Homo sapiens: one gene and its partner. The protein of the gene in region 1 interacts with the protein of each later gene in a pairwise test. Each region holds a gene or a part of one and is shown in the gene's direction. Other genes may lie near its edges.

Region 1 (7,936 bases):
ACTGGGTTTGTGGCACCTAAACTACCCATAGCTATCTTGCTGTACTCCCTCAAGTTTTGGTGAGGGACCTTTCTCCCTCTTGCTTTTCAGTGGAAGGTTAGCAAGCCTCGTTTGTCTGGGTTATAATTTTTACAACTTGTAGGTTTTGATGATGTATTGCCAAGTATGGGAAGCTATGTTTAAAAGTGTCAGAAGGCTCAAGAAGAAGTGGAAATGAGCTATGTAGTCAGAGTTTCCCATTTGGTGTAAATGAAGAAGTTACAGTTGTGCCAAGATATTGACCTGTTCAGTCCTTGGGCAGTCAGGCAGGCCTGTGATGACTGGGGGATCCTGACTGACTAGCCACCAGCAGCCTTCTCTGCTTATCCCAGCAGACCTGACAAATAGCTTTTTCTACGTGTGCCATGAAGCAGTTGGGATGCAGTTGTATTACAGCAGGATGAATGTGTTCCTTCCCATAGAATTGTGATGTTTTATGGTTTGTAACCACGGTGGAAGATGGATGGGATAGGAATTTAGGAAAAATAGTTCCAAATGGTAGGAGCTTTCACGTGTATCTGATTTCATAGCTAAATAGCCATCAAAGAGTTAGAAAGCAAGATTAAATTCATTCAGTTAACAGTATTCCAACCTGACTTTAAAAAAGAAAAGGCAGCCTTTGAGTATGTTTAGTTTCTCTGATGCCACTGTCTGTTCTTCCCTGATACGCATTTAGGTTCAGTCTCATATTTGTTAAGTGTGTTCTTGAGAACTTCTTGTGAACCTCTATGTTCCACTGTAAGTGGTGTCATATTAACCAAGCGATTTGGCCATATTCTTAAAGGTTTTATATCAGGAAGTTACTTTATATGATACAAGAATGTTCAGGCCGGGCACGGTGGCTCACGCCTGTAATCCCAGCACTCTGGGAGGCTGAGGCAGGCGGATCACCTGAGGTCAGGAGTTCGAGACCAGCCTGGCCAACAGAGTGAAACCCTGTCTCTACTAAAAATACAAAAAAAATTAGCCGGGCTTGGTGGCGGGTGCCTGTAATCCCAGCCACTCGGGAGGCCGAGGCAGGAGAATCGCTTGAACCCGGGAGGCAGAGCTTGCAGTGAGCCGAGATCGCGCCACTGCACTCCAGCCTGGGTGACAGAGCGAGACCCTAGCTCAAAAAAAAAAAAAAAGAATGTTCAAATAAATCTTTATGTTACTTCTATAAATTTTCCAAATTTATTCAGTGCTTACAGTTTATTCTGTTATCAGTAATGAAATGCAATGCCTGTCTTTTGAGTAGCAAATGAACTCACTATTCAAGTGGTTAGCACTAATCTTTTCACTAACTTTTCATTATTTCAGACTCAGACAGGACCATATGTCATTAACCCCTGGTTATTAGTAAAAATAGCTTTGGCTTTGAAAACAGTTGAGGCAGGACATGGTGGCTCACACCTGTAATCCCAGCACTTTGGGAGGCCAAGGCAGGTGGATCACTTGAGGCCAGGAGTTCAAGAACAGCCTGGCCAACATGGTGAAACCCCGACTCTACTAAAAATATAAAAATTAGCTGGGCATGGTGGCACACGCCTGTAATTCCAGCTACTCGGAAGGCTAAGGTAGAGAATCGCTTGAGCCGCAGAGGTAGAGGTTGCAGTGAGCTGAGATTGTGCCACTGCCCTCTAACCTGGGTGACAGAGCATGACTCTGTCTCAAAAAAAAAAAAAAAAAAAAAACAGAAACAAAGAAAATAAACAGTTGAGAATAAGGCTTGCTTGGGGTTTTTCTTCCCTCTCTCCCACTCTCCCTTGTTTCTTTTCTGCAGCTTAGCATTTTTCTAGGGATAAGTTCCCAGCTGGCACTGAAAAATTTTAACTGACTTTACGGGGCAGGCAAGTTATGATTCACCAGAATTATGGCTTTACGAGGCCTCCAGTATCTGTGAGGGCCTAGATATAGTTTTACCTTTTGTTTTCTGGGCCTTTCATTTTGTCCAGTTTTTATCTTTAAGTCTTCATTGACTTATGCTGGCTGACTTAAAACTTAAGAGTAGTTGGAGTGCTCTAGTTTGTGTTTGGGGTGATTTAAAGCTAATGATGTGTTACTTTTGGCACTAGGGGGAGGTGTTGCCTAGTTCCTTAAGTGGTTAACCTCTGACTAGGTCTAGCTCTGTTTGTAATGACTGGTCAGCCAAAATCAACCTTCCTGCTTTCTCTCCAGCTGGGCACAACTTTTGCACAGCACTCAAGTATCTTTTTGTTATTAAAATATATCCTTCAAAAGAAATACTCAATACTTACTTAGCACTTAAAATTCCCAAGTCATTCTTAGGTATTGTTGCCAAAGCTTCTGAAGCTGAAGTAGGAAACTAAATAGATCAGTTTCATTTTCCCGAGGTTCAGAGGTAAAGAACTGACGTAGGAAGCAGGAGTCCTGGATTCTGGTCCTTTCTGTTTTTTTTATTGCTAGAGTGCAGTGGCACGATCATAGCTCATTGCAGCCTTGATCTCCTAGGCTCCAGTGGTCCTCCAGCCTCAGCCTCCTGTGTAGCTGGGACTACAGGTGTGTACCATCAACCTGGCTAATTTTTATTTTTGTCGACACTGGGTCTCACTATGTTGCCCAGGCTGGTCTCAAGTTGGCTTCAAGTGATCCTCACATGTTGGCCTCCTAAAACTCTGGGATTATAGGGATAAGCCACCATGCGTGGCCTGATCCTTTTTCAAATATGATTTTACTCTGTGACCTTCTCTAAGCCTGAGGCTAGATGAGCTCTCTGATCCTCAGATAGATAACACCTGTTATGGGATATAGTTCCCTCTGCCCATTTTGTGCCTGCATCCAGTTGGGTACATGCCTGGTCTTCTGTATATTTGGAACAGATATCACACACTTTTATGGTGAGAGTTGTGGGGCCTTACCCGTATTTGAAATACCATCAGTGGAAATTTAATTTTTCATTACTACCTTTGTTAAAATTAAATTACCTGTTAAGAATAACCTGGGCCGGGTGCGGTGACTCATGCCTGTAATGCCAGCACTTTGGGAGGCCGAGGCAGGCACATCACCTGAAGTTGGGAGTTTGAGACCAGCCTGACCAACATGGAAAAACCCCATCTCTACTAAAAATACAAAATTAGTCGGGCATGGTAGCGCATGCCTGTAATCCCAGCTACTAGGGAGGCTGAGGCAGGAGAATCACTTGAACCCTGGAGGAAGAGGTTGTGTTGAGGAAGATCACACCATTGCACTCCAGCCTGGGCAACAAGAGTGAAACTCTGTCTCAAAAAAAAAAAAAAAGAATAACCTAACAACTTCTATCATATACCGTTTTGGTTATTTTTTCTAATGCCACAGTTTAGAGGGAACAGAACATGAAAATATGAATTTCTAGAAATTAACTTTTTTTTTTTTGAGACAGAGTCTCACTCTGTTGCCCAGGCTGAGTGCAATGGCGCGATCTCGGCTCACTACAACCTCTGCCTCCCAGGTTCAAGTGATTCTCCTGCCTCAGCCTCCTGAGTAGCTGGGATTACAGGCATGTGCCACCATGCCCAGATAATTTTTTGTATTTTTAGTAGAAATGGGGTTTCACCCTGTTGGTCAGGCAGGTCTTGAACTCCTGACCTCATGATCCAACCGCCTCGGCCTCCCAAAGTGCTGAGATTACAGGCGTGAGCCACCACACCCGGCCTTTTTTTTTTTTTTTTTTTTTGAGACGGAGTTTCGCTGTCATTGCCCAGGCTGGAGTGCAATGGCACGATCTCGGCTGACCGTAACCTCCACCTCCCAGGTTCAAGCGATTCTCAAGTCTCAGCCTCCTGAGTAGCTGGGATTACAGGCATGCACCACCATGCCTGGCTAATTTTTTTGTATTTTTAGTAGAGACGGGGTTTCTCCATGTTGGTCAGGCTGGTCTCGAACTCCCAACCTCAGGTGATCTTCCCGCCTCGGCCTCCCAAAGTGCTGGGATTACAGGCATGAGCCACTGCGCCCGGCTGAAATTAATTTTTAATTGACACAATAACTGTACGTATTTATGGGATACATAGTGATGTTTCAATTCATATAAGATATAGTGATTTGATCAGAATATTTAGCATCTCAGACATTTATCATTTCTTTGTGTTGAAAATATTCAAAATCCTCCTTCTAGCTATTTGAAACTATAATATATATTATTGTTGACTATAGTCATCCTACAGGGATATAGAACACTAGAACTTATTCCTCCCACCAAGCTGTAACTTTGTTTCCAAAAAGTACATTTTGGTGGGGAAAGAGAAGGAATCACTCTATAGAGTATTGGGTGTCCCCAAGAGAATGGGTAAGATAAGATAGGATGGTGTAGTAGAGTGCTTGAGGCAGCCAGGAATGCCTAACGAAGAGATGCCAAAAGGAAAGAAAATTGTCCAACAGCTGGCAGGAGGACAGGAAAGCTTTCCCTAATTTTGCTGAAGGTGATCAGAGTCATAGACTCTTAATAGTTGAGGAGAATAATAATTTAGTTATTGCTTAGAATTGACAGATTTCTAGGAAAAATCTGATAGCACTGTGTTTACACAAACCATAAATAATTAGCCTTGAAAATGGGGTTGGGGAAATAAGTAACATTCAACAAAAACACTCATCCCTTTGTTAGTTTTTATTTAGTTCTTTGGAATAACCAGTTTTTGTTTTAAAATATTTTAGTTATTCTATTTCTCCTTGCTTTTTCAGATTTGCTCATTAAGAAAAGTGATTGTTTCTTCCTGTGTGTGGCTTTGAGGGTTCAATTTTCAGAGTTTCAGAATTTACCACGCTGTTAAACGTGGTTAGTCATTCATACACCACACTGGCAGTTAAGAATGATGTTGGCTGGGCACGGTGGCTCACACCTGTAATCCCGGCACTTTAGGAGGCCAAGATAGGAGGATCACTTGAGGCCAGGTATTCAAGACAAGTTAGGTCAACAAACCAAGACCTGATCTCTACAACAAATCTAAAAATTAGCCAGGCATGGTGGCAGGCTCCTGTAATCATAGCTGCTCTGGAGGTTGAGGCAGGAGGATCACTTGAGCCCAGGAGTCTGAGGCTGCAGTGAGCTATGATGGCACCACTCCACTACAGCCCATGTGACAGAGCAAGACCTTGTCTCTTAAAAAACAACAACAAAAAAGAATGATGTTAATTCACAAAAGAGATAATCTTATATTTGAACAGTGCCCCATATCACTTTAAACCATTTTAAGTAGTTTTCCTTAGTAACTGAACAAGTCTAAAGGTGACTTGATTTGTTAAGTAGTTTTTCATCCCATTTGGGATTTTTTGTGTGCGTTTTTGTAACTGTTAACAGTAGCAGCTTTGAAAATAGACACTACTATATGTGTGACTTTGTGGCTTCTTAAATGGTTAAAACTTACCAAAATGCTAATATTGAGAGCAGAAATTATTTTACTTTATCTTATTGATTATTTGTTTTTTATGCTCTTTCATTGGGTAAGTTTAGTGATTATTCTAGATTTCAGGAAACTTTTGGTCAGAGCAAGCAGAAGAGCTAGCTGGGCTTAAGCAGCATTTTATCTTTGTTTTTTCAGTGATTGCCTTCATGTTGTGGAGCCCATGCCTGTGCGGGGGCCTGATGTAGAAGCATACTGTCTACGCTGTGAATGCAAATATGAAGAAAGAAGCTCTGTCACAATCAAGGTAAAATATATATCCCTCTATCTACCTGTCTGTCTGTCTGTCTACGTCTTTTCTGCTTCTGGATGGTTTCTAGACAAGACAGAAAAATTTGGACCCCTACCCCAAAAGGAATAATGGGCCTGTTCTGCCTGCCTCACTGACATGGTTTGTGGATTAGTTAGGGTATGTTAGATAGATATGTGAAATGGCACAAAAATGCCCTATGTGTAATTAGCATATTCCAGAAAGATATCCCAGCTTCTGTGTAGGCCATGTGTGCCAGAGGCTGAGAGAGCAGCATTTATAAGCCCTCCTCTCCTTGCCTTTCCAGCCCTTTGAAAAAATTAAATATATAGTAATTATTCTAGAACTATTACTTCTGGATTTTAAGATTTCCCCTCTTCATTTCCTGTAGGACAGTGGTCCCCAGCCCCCAGGCCACAGCCCAGTCTGTGGTCTGTTAGGAACTGGGCCACTCAGCAGGAGGTGAGCAGTGGGCAAGTGAGCAAAGCTTCATCTTATTTACAGCTGCTCCCCATCATTCGCATTACCACCTGAGCTCCACCTCCTGTCAGATGAGCAGCAGCATTAGATTCTCATAGGAGCATGAACTCTATTGTGGACTGCACATGTGAGGGATCTAGGCTGCATGCTCCTTATGAGAATGAGAATCTAATGCCTGATGATCTGTCACTGACTCCCATCACCCCCATATGGGACCGTCTAGTTGCAGGAAAACAAGCTCAGGGCTCCCACTGATTCTATGTTATGGTGAACTGTATAATTATTTCATTATATATTATAATGTAATAATAATAGAAATAAAGTGCACAATAAATGTAATGTGCTAGAATCATACCCAAACCATCCCCTACCACCCCTGGTCCATGAAAAAATTGTCTTCCATGAAACTGGTCCCGTCCCTGGTGCCAAAAAGGTTGTGGAGTATTGCTGTAGTAAATGGGATGTAGATCACTCTCATCACCATTTGTATTTCTAATGAGTTCAGTTACTTTATTATAGTGGCTAATGGTTTTTCTTCCAATTTTTTTTTTTTTTTGAGATGGAGTCTTGCTCTATTGCCCAGGCTGGAGTGCAGTGGTGTAATCTTGGCTCACTGCAACCTCCGCCTCCTGGGTCCAAGCGATTCTCCTGCCTCAGCCTCCTGAGTAGCTGGGATTACAGGCATGCACCACCACGCCCAGCTAATTTTTGTATTTTTAGTAGAGACAGGATTTCACCATGTTGGTCAGGCTGGTCTCGAACTCCTGACCTCGTGGTCCACCCATCTTGGCCTCCCAAAGTGCTGGGATTGCAGGTGTGAGCCACCGCGCCTGGCCTAATTTTTTTTTACATGGCACTTCCCATTCCTTTCCCCCCAAAAGGCCCTGTGGGGAATGTGGGGTGGTTAGTTATAATAGTCACAAACATTTCTGCTGTGATTGACCCTGTGGAAGAGCTCTTGCTCCAGCAGGGTGCTGAACTTTAGATAAATCCTCACTGTACTATTATTTAACAGATTTGTAAAAAATATACAACTTATGTACCCTAAAAGTCACTCACTATAAGTATACAATTCTATAAATTTTAGTAGATTTAAAACATTTTAAAATCCAGTTTCAGGCCAGGCATGGTGGCTCACATCTATAATCCCAGCACTTTGGAAGTCCGAGGCGGGTGGATCACTTGAGGTCAGGAGTTCGAGACCAGCCTGTCCAACGTGGTGAAACCCCATCTCTACTAAAAATATAAAAATTAGCCAGGTGTGGTGGCACGCACCTGTAGTCCCAGCTACTTGGGAGGCTACGGCATGAGAATCACTTGATCCTGGAGGCAGAGGTTGCAGTGAGCTGAGATCGTGCCACTGCACTCCAGTGAGACTCTGTCTCAAAAAAAAAAAAATAAAATCCAGTTTCAGAACATTCCCACTACCCCAAAAAGATCCCTCATGCCCATTTACAGTTAATTCCCATTTCCAGCCCTACTCGGTCACTAGTCTACTTTCTGTCTCTGCATACATGGACATTTCATGTATATGGAATCATATAATATATAGTCTTCTGTGACTGGCTTCTTTCATTTAGCACAATGTTTTTGATGTTTATGCAAGTTGTAGCATGTATCAGTACTTCGTTTCTTTTTATTGCTGAATAGTATTTCACTATATGAATATGCATTTATCAGTTGATGGACGTTTGGATTATGTCTGGGTTTTTACTATTATGAATAATACTGTTGTGAATATCTGCACATATGTCTTTGTATGGATATATATGTTTTCCATTCTCTTGGGTTA
Region 2 (7,468 bases), on another chromosome or scaffold:
GATTACAGGCACCTGCCACCACACCTGGCTAATTTTTGTATTTTTAGTAGAGACAGGGTGTCACCATGTTGGCCAGGCTGGTCTTGAACTTCTGACCTCAGATGATCCGCCCACCTCAGCCTCCCAAAGTGCTGGGATTACAGGCATGAGCCACCGCACCCGGACCCTCGTTCTTTTGTAAGGCTACTTTTCCGTTGGATGGCTCTGCTGCTTTTTGTCCATTCATCAGTTGGACATGTGGGTTGTTTCCACTTCGTGATTATTATGACTGATGCAGTGAGCGTTTATGTACAAGTTGTCGTGTGAACACGTTTTCAGTTTTCTTGGGTATGTGCCTAGGAGTGCAATTGCTGGATTGTGTGGGAACTGTCAAAATTTTTGAGGAACTGCCAAACTGCTTCCTACAGCAGCTGTACCATCTTACATTCCCACGAGTAATGTGCGAAGCTTCCAATTTCTCCACATCTTCACCAACACTTATTTTATATTTTTAAAGTTAGGCATCTTAGCGGATGTGAAGTGGTATCTCACTGTGGTTTTGATTTGCATTTCCCTGATGACTGATGACATTGGACATATTTTCATGCATTTAATGACTATTTGTCTATCTTCTTTGGAAAAATGTCTATTCGGAGTCTATGCATATCTGAAAGTTGGGTCATCTGTCTTTGTACTGAGGAGTAAATGTTGCTGCTGTGCTCTGGATACTACACCCTCAACAAACACAGGATGCGCAAATGCTCTATGCTGTTCTGTGGGCTGTCTGCACTTTCTTTGCAGTGTCCATTGAAACACAAAAGTTTTACATTTTGATGAAGTCTAATTCTTTGCTTATTTGTGCTTTTGGTGTTATATCTAAGAAACCATTTTCTAATCCAGGGTCACAAAAATTTACACCTATTTGTACTTCTAAAGTCTGATAGTTTTTTAAAAAAATATATGAAATGCTTTATGAATTTGCATGTCATCTTTGCACAGGGGCCATGCGATCTTCTCCCTGTCTTTCCAATTTTTAGTATATGTGCTGCCGAAGCCAGCGCAGAGTCTTAGAGTTTTAACTCCTACTTTTAGGGCTATGCTCCACTTTAGTTAATTTTTGCATCTAGTGCAAGGTAAACATTCTTTTGCATGTTGATAGTCTCTCGTCCCAGCATTATTTGTTGAAAAGACAGTTCTCTCCCATTGAATGGTCTGGACACCCTTATTGAAAATCAGTTGACTGTAGATATATAAATCTATTTCTGGACTCTGTGTTCAATTTCATTGATCTACATGTCTGTCCTTATGCCGGTGCTACACTGGCGTAATTACTGTAGCTTTAGGAAGTTTCGTGTTTTTTGTTTATTTTTTGTCTTTTAGTAAGTTTTGAAATGGGAAATATGAGTTCTCCAGCTTTGTCCTTTCTCAAGAGTATTTTGGCTATTCAGGGTCCTTTGAATTTCCATGTGACTCTTTTTTTTTTTTTTTTTTTGAGGTGGAGTCTTGCACTGTCACCTAGGCTGGAGTGCAGTGGTGTGGTCTCGGTTCACCACAACCTCCGCCTCCCATGTTCAAGTGATTCTCCTGCCTCAGCCTCCAATGTAGCTGGAATTACAGGCACCTGCCACCACACCCAGCTGATTTCGTATTTTTAGTAGAGATGGGGTTTCACCATGTTGGCCAGACGGGTCTCGAACTCCCGACCTCAGGTGATCTGCCCGCCTCAGCCTCCCAAAGTGCTGGGATTACAGGCATGAGCCACTGTGCCTGGCCACCATATGAATTATCTAATCAACTTGTCTGTGTCTACAAAAAAGGCTGTTGAAATTTTGGTAGGGTTGCATGAATATGTTGACCAGTTAGGAAAATATTACCATCTTAATATTGTCTTCCAATTAATGAACATGAGATATTTTTCCATTTTATTTGAATCATCTTTAATTTCTTTCAACAACCATTTTGTAGTTTTCAGTGTGCAAGTCTTTCAGTTGTTTTAAGTTTATTGCTACTTACTGTATTCTTTTTGATGCTATTGTAAATGGAGTTGTTTTCTTAATTTCATTTTTGGGTAGTTCGTTGCTAGAGCATAGAAATATACCTGACTTTTGGCCGGGCATGGTGGCTCACGCCTGTAATCCCAACACTTTGGGAGGCTGAGGCAGGTGGATCACGAGGTCAGGAGATCGAGACCATCCTGGCCAAAATGGTCATATTAAAATATGAAAAAATTAGCCGGGCATGGTGGTGCACACCTGTAGTCCCAGCTACTCAGAAGGCGGAGGTTGCAGTGAGCTGAGATCACTCCAGCCTGGCGACAGAACAAGACTCCGTCTGAAAAAAGAAGAAAAAAGAAATATACCTGACTTCTTATGTTGATCTTGTGTCTTGCAACCTGTAACAGCCGATTTTTAGCTCTGATAGTTTTTGCGTGTGGATTCTTTAGGGTTTTGTACATAAGACTGTTACTCCTCTTGACCATCTGCCTTCCCTCTCCACAGGCCCTATTGCTTCTGCGCCGGCGATCAGCACCCCCTGAAGAGCAGCACCTGGTGGAGGCCGCCAAGCTTCCTGTTCTCCTGAACCTGTCCTTTACATACCTGAAGCTAGACCGACCCACCATAGCCCTGTGCTATGGAGAGCAGGCTTTGATCATTGACCAAAAGAATGCCAAGGCCCTCTTCAGGTGTGGACAGGTGAGTTGGAAGCCAGTGACTTGGGAATAAACACCCAGGAAAAGGTAGTAGCAGTGCTCAACTCAGCTACTGCAAAAATGCTGTCTTTTTTTTTTTTTTTTTTTTTTTTAGACAGAGTTTTGCTCTTGTTGCCCAGGATGGAGTGCAGTGGCGCAAATTCGGCTCGCTGCAACCTCCGCTTCCTGGCTTCAAGCAATTTTCCTGCCTCAGCCTCTCAAGTAGCTGGGATTACAGGCATGCGCCATCACACCCAGCTAATTTTTGTAGTTTTAGTAGAGATAGGGTTTTGCCGTGTTGGCCAGGCTGGTCTGGAATCCCTGACCTCAGTTGATCCGCCCGCCTTGGCCTCCCAAAGTGCTGGGATTACAGGCATGAGCCACCGTGCCCAGCCAAATGATATCTTTTCTAACTGTGCTTTTAAAGTTCTCTCCTTGGGACAGGCTTGTCTTCTCCTGACTGAGTATCAAAAGGCCCGGGATTTTCTAGTTCGAGCCCAGAAGGAGCAACCCTTCAATCATGACATCAATAATGAGCTGAAGAAACTGGCTAGGTGAGCTGTGTTTGCAGGAGCATGAAGAGAGATGGGTGGGGTTGTGACTCTGGTCTGTCCCCCCACCCCCCCCAACAAAGGACAGTCTGGCGGTGTTGCCCAGAGTGTTAGGAGGCCGCCCCCTCTACAGCTGGGTTTCTGAAGTGCTCGGCCGTGCGCTGCACCAGCAGTTCCCAGCAAGCAGGTGAGACAGACTGCCAGACTATACATCTCCATCATCGCCCACCTTTCTGTTTCCCCTACCGCAAATAAACAACCCCTAGAGAGGTGGGAGGGTGTCACTTTTTTTTTTTTTTTTTGAGATGGAGTCCCTCTCTGTCACCTAGGCTATAGGGCAATGGCATGATCTCGGCTCACTGCAACCTCCGCGTCCCGAGTTCAGACGATTCTCCTGTCTCAGCCTCCAAGGTAGCTGGGATTACAGGCGTGTACCACCACATCTGGCTAATTGTTTTTGTATTTTAGTTGAGACAGGGTTTCACCGTGTTGACCAGGCTGGTCTCAAACTCCTGACCTCAGGTGATCCCCCCACCTCGTCCTTCCAAAGTGCTGGGATTACAGGCACAAGCCACCACAACTGGCCCCGGTGTCACTTAAAAAGAGTCTTCTGGTGCGCTCTTCCCTGCGTGCTCCACCAAGAACCACTGCTCCTAACCAAGTGCAGAAAGGCCCCTCGTAGGTCCTCATGTGACCAGAAACAGGCGTTTCGGGTCTGACTCATACCCATGGATTGACCTCCTTGTTACCCACGTGACTAAGCACACCAGTCTTTTAGTGATGTAATTTTTTCTCATTATAGAAGTTTTGTGTCCATTGTAGAAAACCTTGAAAATGTCTACCTATAAATAGGAGTCCCCCATAACTCCATCACTTGGTAATAGGTCCATGGTTTTTAAGGTATATCTTCTTCTGTAATGGTGAAATTCTCTACTTGTCTTAATATTAAACATTCGGTCCAGATTGCTAGTTAAAGCTTGCTTGGCATTAGTGTCTGAGATGTGAGTATCTCTTAGGTTACATTTCAAGCCTTTTAGGACTTGCCAGCAATTTCCTTTCTGGTATTTAAAAGTATCCTGTCAGATCTGGTCATTCTTTAGTGAGAAAATCAGGAGAGGTTAGAGGCTGCTGAGGGTGAGGGGTCGTTTGGCGAGACTCAGCCCGGAGCCTGGTGGCCAGAGGCACCTGCCCTTCAAGGCAGCTGTCCTTTCCAGTTAGGGGGTTTTGTCCAGGGGCTTGGCTCCTTGGCCAGCTGTGGGAGCCTTCCCTGCCTCCCCACCTCTCCAGCTTACTTCCATCCCTCCCAACTCAGTTTGAGTCCTGATAAATTTTCAGTGTTTCTGGATGTGAGTGGAGAATTCCAGCCACCAGATGTCACCTCCTCCAAACACAGACCTCCTCTAACAAGTGTGTATTTCCCTCTCCAGCTGTTACAGGGACTATGTGGATAAAGAGAAAGAAATGTGGCACCGCATGTTCGCGCCCTGTGGCGATGGTTCTACAGCAGGAGAAAGTTGAAGGTAATCAAAGGGCCAGGGTGGCACACAGGCTTCCGGATGGAGAAGCGTGCTGCTCTCCTCCACCCCCAAGTGAATGGTGGCTGTCTGCAGCTGAGGGTGGACGAGGGGTAGACAAGTTCCTTGCTGTAAAGAACAACACAACGGTAGTGCAGGATGCACGTGCTGCACGCCTACCTTTCCCGTGAGAAGAAAGTTCGCCCAGACCTGTGGGTTAAATGTATAGGTTCAGGGGGCCTTGAGCTATTTATTTATTTATTTGTTTGTTTGTTTGTTTGAGGCAGAGTCTCACTCTGTTGCCCAGGCTGGAGTGCAGTGGTGCGATCTCAGCTCACTGCAAGCTCCGCCTCCCAGGTTCAAGCGATTCTTCTGCCTCAGCCTCCTGAGTAGCCGAGATTACAGCTGTGAGCCGTGGCGCTCAGCCTAAATTTATTTTTTAAAAAACCTTTTTTTTTCATGTTTTATGTGAAACTCTCCTTGCAGTTGCTTGGAACATGAGACTGAGTAGAGTCATGAATGTGATGGTTGATAGAGCTGGGCTTTGACGTGTCAAGCTTCTGTTCATCTTCTTTCTCCTGAGAACTCGAAAGCCTCCAACTTGACTGTGTCTCTAACACATTACTAAAGCAGACAAGATCGCAGGGTGGGGATGGGCTGTGGCTCTTAAATTCTACTTTCTATTAGACTTAGAGATTTGAAGATGCTGAAAGCAACAGGGAGCGGAATATAGCATTCCTCCCAAGATCACACCTAGTAATTTTGCAGGCACAGGGCGGGAGTTCCCAAGCACATGAGATAACCCTCCAGTCTGAACCCTCCAGTCTGGTCTACTATTTAATAAAATTAATGGAAACAAAATCACCTGCCTGAAACACCTGCTTAGCTGCACAGATAACTCTGCTCTCTCGGAGAAGTCAAACAAGGAACAACAAGAAAACAGCTGCTGAACGGGCTCATGGTGATAAATCTCTCCTTTGTTGCTTCCTCCATCTCCCTACAAAAGGGGCTTGAGAGGAGGAGGCAGTGAAAAGGCCTATTCATCCCCGACATTTTCATAGCGGTCCATAAACTGCTGCTATCTGCACTTTCAGATGCGCCCACCAGCATCACAGGTAAATGTTGCCTTCGTCACTGATGCTGGCCATGTGAACCCTGGCCTTCAGGTCTTTCAGTGGCCTTTGGAGTACATATTTGCAGGTCTTCAGAACTGAGATGTGAGCCAGAGGACTTCCCTTGTTTGGTCACTTCTAGTATCCAGTAAAAATGAAGGGCAGTGACTGTTTGCCAAACATTTTGGACTGTGACCCCACAAGTCCTGTCATGAATGAAGACCCAGGTCTGCCAGGGTCCATCCCAGACAAGGGCTTGGGCAGCCCAGCTGGGCAGCAGTTTTCCTCGCCATCATGTTTGCTTCCCAGCCTTTTCAGTCTGTAGGACTGGAGGCTGCTGATCTTCAGATGCTTTCCCCCAGATTTCCAACTCCAGCATTTATCTTACCATCAGCAATGACTGTATTTGTGTTCTAAAGTAGCCACCACTGTCATATTGCCACTGCTGTCACAGTTGTGATAAGTTTTAGCTTTTGTGTCTTTGCTCTCCCTGCTCCCCTTTTTTTCTGTAGTATTTGAGGCCTAGTCATTTAAAAGAAGCTAAAAATCCAGTCATCTTGACAACCTAGTTGTCACTAACCAGGACAATTTTTTTTTTTTTAAGGGTCTCCCTCTGTCACCCAGGCTGGAGTGCAATGGCACAATCTTGGCTCACTGCAGCCTCTGCCTCCCAGATTCAAGTGATCCTCCTGCCTCAGCCTCCCGAGTAGCTGGGACTGCAGGTGTGAGCCACCACGCCTGGCTAATTTTTGTATTTTTAGTAGAGACAGGGTTTCACCATATTGGTCAGGCTGGTCTCAAACTCCTGACCTCAGGTGGTCCTCCCGCCTTGGCCTCCCAAAGTGCTGGGATTACAGGCCTGAGCCACTGCACCTGGCTTAGGACAATTTTAACTTTTGTTCTTTTCATCTTAGATGTTAGATACCACTGACTTGTAAGATTACTTCTGGAGGAATGAGTGTTCTCTTAAGTATTAGTTATGTGCTCTAAGCCTCTGACTATAGTAGACAGTATGCCTTTTCCATCTTTGCATTTTCTAGCTTCTGGAGCCATGCCAGGTGCACGATTGGTGCTCAGGAAATGTTGGTTGGACTAAGTGTGAAATAGCCGAAGCAACAGACCAGCCTCTAATAAAACATCCTCCAGGCTGGCTCTGGGATTGGCTGTTGGACCCTTGGTATTGCCAGGGACAGAAACCTATCTTTAGCATCAGCCAGAAAAAAAAAAAAAAAAAAAAAGATTTGCAGAAGGGGTCCTGGGAGTGGCTCACAGAGTTGAGGAGGAGTTTGGCAGTCCTTGGGCAGACAGTGACCAGGCAGCTCTGAGGGCCTTAGGGACTCAGTCTCCCCTCGGCTTTGTTTTCTCCCCCTGTAGGGAGTGCCCATACATCCCTTTCTGCAACCTCCTCCCTAATGGAGTGAGAGTTCTGTACCCTAAAAGTCCCTCCTCTTCCTGCCCCAAACATAACTCTTCAGTTTGAAAGATCCTGGGCAGGACTCCGGCCTGGTTGGGGGTATGTAGAACCCCATGAATGGGAGTTTGTGTTTTGTCCTTCCTATCCTGACATGCTGGTATCTGAGGCCCTTGTGATCATTTTACTGTGTCTGGAAAGGAGCTGTGAAG

Evidence for each region. The genes of interacting proteins can lie anywhere in the genome.
Region 2: the proteins of TMEM9B (region 1) and FKBP6 interact in binary tests that used the Homo sapiens proteins (3 or more experiments, as listed by UniProt).

Annotation. Positions count from the first base shown.
Region 1 is NC_000011.10:8,953,915-8,961,850, reverse strand, and holds part of TMEM9B (transmembrane protein 9B isoform a precursor), read left to right. Parts: intron 1-5,552; coding exon 5,553-5,661; intron 5,662-7,936. UniProt on the Homo sapiens protein: Enhances production of pro-inflammatory cytokines induced by TNF, IL1B, and TLR ligands. Has a role in TNF activation of both the NF-kappaB and MAPK pathways.
Region 2 is NC_000007.14:73,338,161-73,345,628, forward strand, and holds part of FKBP6 (inactive peptidyl-prolyl cis-trans isomerase FKBP6), read left to right. Parts: intron 1-2,477; coding exon 2,478-2,672; intron 2,673-3,095; coding exon of another isoform or gene 3,096-3,112; coding exon 3,113-3,222; intron 3,223-4,646; coding exon 4,647-4,737; 3' UTR 4,738-4,739; intron 4,740-7,468. UniProt on the Homo sapiens protein: Has an essential role in spermatogenesis. It is required to repress transposable elements and prevent their mobilization, which is essential for the germline integrity.